Regions from separate parts of the Homo sapiens genome. Here region 1 is linked to region 2. Evidence: fine-mapped expression QTL. Tissue or cell type: whole blood. Region 2 holds a variant in brackets; the other region holds the start of a gene. All regions are shown on one strand. Distances are between the middles of the regions.

Evidence for each region. PIP is the estimated chance that this variant, and not a neighbour inherited with it, causes the effect.
Region 1: FBXO45 starts here. The variant in region 2 is fine-mapped to the expression of FBXO45 in whole blood (TOPMed, PIP 0.91).

What each region holds. Positions count from the first base shown.
Region 1 is chr3:196,567,114-196,569,795 of GRCh38, reverse strand. It overlaps FBXO45 (F-box protein 45), which reads right to left and starts at 1,136. Exons shown (of 3, transcript NM_001105573.2): 1 at 494-1,136. The coding sequence starts at 811. WDR53 (WD repeat domain 53) reads left to right here and starts at 1,242. Exons shown (of 4, transcript NM_182627.3): 1 at 1,242-1,277; 2 at 2,489-2,682. RefSeq lists silencers at 224-518, 640-1,179 and an enhancer at 1,901-2,682.
Region 2 is chr3:196,331,826-196,334,507 of GRCh38, reverse strand. The region is part of intron 1 of TM4SF19 (transmembrane 4 L six family member 19); the gene reads left to right. All of the region lies in intron 1 of TM4SF19-DYNLT2B (TM4SF19-DYNLT2B readthrough (NMD candidate)), which reads left to right. Among named protein-coding and RNA genes, the nearest start is that of TM4SF19, 5.2 kb to the left of the region's middle. The variant G/C (reference allele first, on the strand shown) is at 1,118.

The DNA of each region.
Region 1 (2,682 bases), 240 kb before region 2:
GAGAACTTGGGGGAAAATAATGAAAACAAATGGTTAAAAATCAGAGCTTGGAAAAGATGAGATAAACGTGGAGTGAAAGCAAACTAGAAACTTAGAAACTTAGAAACTAAGCCCATGTTAAGGTGGCCGGGATTATTTAATATAATGAAGTCTATCTGGAGGCCGGGGAGAAAAGTAGGATGAGGGCATTAAAAGGTACAAGAGTGGTGGTCTGTCTTTAACGGGGAAAACTGTCAAAAGTTGAATGAGTGAGGCAAACTACCTAGTTGTTTGAAAAGTGGATCACGGAAGTGGGATGGGTTAAGGAGCAGAACTTCGATCCAAAGAAAAGAGAATCTTTATCTTGGGGGGAGGTGAGGAAGATACTGACTGGAGCCGTGGAAAGGCGGGCTGGTGAGGCGAAGCTTCTGACTCAGAAGCTCGGATGAGAAACACCGCGAACGACGCCGGGGAGCGGGACTGGGGGCAGCGGTGTGGCCCGGGGCTCTCTCACCTTGGCCTTGTAGCTGGGCAGGTTGCACAGGATGTCCGTGCGCAGAGCCTCTTCTGCCAGGCTGCGGGCGCACAGGCTCCGCCACACCTCGCTGTTCTCATCGCCGTGCAGGCAGCGGTACCAGTGCTTGCACACCAGGGCGCAGCTCCGCAGCTCGGACAGCTCCAGGTAAGAGAACACCAACTCCAGCACCCGGCTGGGCAGCCGGCCCCCGGCCCCCGCGGCCCCAGAGCCCGAGCCCGCGCCCGCGCCCGCGCCGCCGCCGCTACAGCCAGCGCCGCCCGAGGCTGCCCCAGCCCCCGGGGCCGGCGCCGCCATCGCCTCACCAGCCGGCCCTAGGGCCGCCGCTGCCGCCGCCGCTTCCCGCCGTCTCTGCTCGGAAGGCCAAGCCTCGCCCGGAGACCGGAGCGGCTCGCTCACCGCCCCTGTCAGTGCCAACCGCCGGCGCCTCCACCACTCCCGCCCCTGCCCGGGGGCGTCCGCCGCGCGCCCCGCCTCACTGAGGGCAGACGCACCGGCTGCAGGGGCGTCCTCCGCCCCTCCTCCGCGGCTCAGCGCGGGCGCCGAAACCGCCCGACTCGCCCGGCCTCTCCGCGGCGCGCCAGCGGCTCCGCCATGCGGGTTGAGGGCACGAAGCAAGGGCGCACGCCCAGCTCGTTCGCGGTTCCTCTCGGCCCCGGATGTGACTGTTTGGCTGCGCCGCCTCACGCCTGACGCTCGACGGGATTGGGCGCCGGCGGGTGAGGTTATCACTAGGCGCCGAGGAGGGGAGCGGGAAGCGCAGGTATGAGGCTGGCGCCGGTGGCTTCGATGCTGCTTTCCGGTGACTTCGATGCTGTTTTCCAGTGCTTTTTCCTTTTTCTGGTCTGGTGGCTCCGCGTCTGCTCTCCTGGGCTCCCTTTCCTGTGACGTTTCCCTGTGTCCGTTAGGTCCTTGCTTCAGACTCCAGCTCAACGCATGAAACTTTTCTCTCCTTGCTTGCCGGGTCCTGGCTCCCCAACCTTTTTGTGTAGCTTGGGCAGCGGAGGCCGTCTTTACCTGGTCAGGCCCTCTCGTTCTCCCTAAGTATCGGCACTTAGCGAACGTCTGTCCCTGTGTGCCTTCGCAAAGTAAGGTGGCTGCGACTGAACACCCCCTCGCCCAAACGTTCGAGTGCCATTTGAGCGCTAATTAAGTGCTGCCGTCTTTTGGACAAGATGTGGTCTTTACTGGATCCACCGCTTAGTAAGCAGATGAAGGCAATGTAGTTTTAGTCAATTAAACATTCCAATAGGGAGAATGACGTGGAGGCTATAATTATAGATGGATTCTTGGAAGGGGAAGAATTTCAGCATCCCAGCTTGGGCAACATTGCGAGGCAGTGTCGCTACAAAAAAATAGAAAAATTAGCCGAGGGTGGTGGCGTGCGCCTCTGGTCCCAGCTACTTGGGAGGCTGAGCCCGGGAGGTCGAGGCTGAGGTGAACCGTAATCGCCCTGCTGTGCTCCAGCCTGGGCGACAGAGTGAGCCCCTACCTCACACACACACACACACACACACACACACACACACAAGAATTTCAGCATTATTTGATTATACTACGATTTCCTAGGTGGCCCCAAAGTTTTCCGACAGCCTTTAAAGCATGCTTAGTAAGAGAATAATAATAACCATCATTTGAGCCACGGTGTGAACCAGGCACTGTATACTACGTCATTTACGCAGATTTTTATATACGTAATCCTCAAAACAACTCCATGAGCTGAGTAATTAAAATAATAGGGTTCACAGACTCCCTTGGTCAACTCCAATGTCTTGGAACCTTTATGTAGTAAGAAATCTTTTCTGAAGCTTCTTGCTATGTATAATCCATTTCTTAGTCTCTAGTAAAAGCAAAGGAACGGTGGCTACCTTCCCTACCCTCTGATTCATGGTGTTTGATTATTATTTGCCTGTCCCTTCTCCTCATGTCTTTTTCACCAAGTCCAGTAACCCTAATTCTTTTCATTCTTACCAGTGCCAGCGCCACAGCCCTTCAATCATTTTGGTTGCTATCCAGCTTCTCCACATCAAGTCCAACTTCAGAAACCCCAAGCCTGTAGAGAAAAGTTGACCTGTGCTGACTCTGGTGATGGTGACTGTCTCTCACTAATTTCTTTGAAGTCTTCAAGGATAAGCAGAGTTGATCCATCTGAGAAAGGGATCATGAAC
Region 2 (2,682 bases):
CACTCCAGCCTGAGCGACAGAGTGAGACTCTGTCTCAAGAAAAAAAAAAATTATTTATCCTGGACCGGGTCTGTTTCTGAGCTCCAGCCTGGGAGACAGAGCAAGACTCCATCTCAAAAAAAAAAAGAAAAAGAAAAGAAAAGCTACAGTCTTGAAAAATGGAAAACACCCGACTAAACAAGTTTCTAAAACAATTCTGAGTTCCTAAGTCGTAAAACTGTTTTTAAAAGGATATGTTGAAGATGAAATATAGGATAGTAGTTCCTAGGAAGGAATCCAGAAAGAAGGCAGGATTGGAGAGGGCACACCTGAGTGTCAGTGATGTGATGGGTAATGACGTATGTTTGATATTGGTTGTGTTTACATGGGTGTTAATTATCTCACACAAGTTACAAATATATTTTACACATTATGTTTAATTCTTTTTTAATGCAATTTTTTTTTTTTGAGACGGAGTCTCGATCTGTGGTCCAGGCTGGAGTGCAGTGGTGCGATCTTGGCTCACTGCAACCTCTGCCTCCCAGGTTCAAGTGATTCTTCTGCCTCAGCCTCCTGAGTAGCTGGGATTACAGGCGCACACCACCATTCCCAGCTAAGTTTTGTATTTTTAGTAGAGATGAGGTTTCGCCAGGTTGGCCAGGCTGTCTTGAACTCCTGACCTCAAGTGATCCACCCGCCTCGGCCTCCCACAGTGCTGGGATTATAGGCGTGAACTACTGCACCTGGCCTTTAATGCAAATTTTAAAAATATAATTTCAACTTTTATTTTAGATCCGGGGATACATATACAGGCTTGTTCCGTGTCTATTGTGTGATGTTGAGGTTAGGGTATGAGTGATTCCCGTCACTCAGGTAGTGAGCGCGGTACCTACAGATAGTTTTTCAGCCCTGGCCCTCCCCCAATGTTTAATTCTTCATGCTGTGAAATATTTCATTATTTATGTGTGATGTAAAGTAATCCCCCCTTAACTGAAGCTTTGCTTTCCAAAGTTTTAGCTATCTGTGGTCAACTGCAGTTCAAAAAACTTACATAAAATATTTTCAATGAGAAAGACCACATTCACATAACTTTCATTACAGTATGTTGTTATAACTGTTCTATTTTATTATTATTGTT[G/C]CGAACTTCTTACTATGCCTGATTTATAAATTAAACTTTATTACAGATATGTATGTATAGGAAAAAGCATAGTACAGACAGTCCTCTACTTATAGTGGTTTGACTTCTAAGTTTCCAACTTTACGACAGGTTTCTAGGGACCTAACTCCATCATCAGTGAACTCCTTACCCTTTATGATGGGATTACGGTTTCTACTGAATACTCATTGCTTTTGCACCATCACAAAGTCAAAAGTAAATTGGGACTGGGCGTGGTGGCTTACGCCTGTAATCCCAACATTTTGGGAGGTGGAGGTGAGAGGATCACTTGAGGCCAGGAGTTTGAGATCAGCTTGGGCAACATAGTGAGACCCTGTCTCTATAGAACTAAAACATTAGCCAGGTATGGTGGCGCATGCCTGCGGTCTCAGCTATCCGAGAGACTGAGGTGGGAGGATCACTTGAGCCCAGATCAGGGCTGCAGTGAACAATGATTGTGCTACTGCACTCCAGCCTGGGTGACAGAGCAAGACCCTGTCTCAAAAAAAAAAAAAAAAAAAAAATTGTAAGTTGAACCATTGTGAGTCAGGGACAGTCTACTGTGTTGCCAGCATTAAATGCCTTTTGAACTTAGGATATTTTGACTTACAACGGGTTTATAGGAGTTCGACCCCATCATAAGTGGAGAAGCATCTGAATATACAGAGTTTGGTATGATCTGTGGTTTCAGGTATCCGCTGGAGCTCTTGGAACATATCCCCTGCAGATATGGGGGACTATTGTGTGTGTGTGTGTGTGTACGTACACACATATATACGCACATTATACATTATATGTATATGATATATATGTGTGTGTGCATATATATAGAGCCTCTGATCCATATCTTTTATATATATATATATTTTTTTTCTTCCCTTCCCCTTCCCCTTCCTCTTTCCTTCCTTCCTTTCCTTTCTTCCTTCCTCCCTCCCTCCCTCCCTCTCTCCCTCCTCTCTCTCTCTCTCTTTTGCTCTGTCACCCAGGCTGGAGTGCAGTGGCGTGATCTGGGCTCACTGCCACCTCTGCCTCTCGGGCTCAAGCGATTCTCCTGCCTCAAGCTCCTGAGTAGCTTGGATTACAGGCGCACACCACCACGCAGTTAATTTTTTTTTTTTGAGACCGAATCTCACTCTCTTGCCCAGGCTGGAGTGCACTGGCGTGATCTCAGCCCCCCAGGTTCACGCCATTCTACTGCCTCAGCCTCCCGAGTAGCTGGGACCACAGGCACCCGCCACCATGCCCAGCTAATTTTTTTGTATTTTTAGTAGAGACGGGGTTTCACCATGTTGGCCAGGTTGGTCGGAAACTCCTGACCTCGTGATCCACCCACCTCAGCCTCCCAAAGTGCTGGGGTTACAGGCGTGAGCCACCGTGCCTGGCCTCTATACACATATTTTCTGATTAGGTGCAAAGCAGTGTGTTATAGGCGTGTCAAGAGCCTCAAGTGGCCAAGTGCAGTGGCTCACGCCTGTCATCCTAGCACTTTAGGTGTCTGAAGTGGGAGGGCCCTTGAGCCAAGGAGTTTGAGACCAGCCTGGGCCACA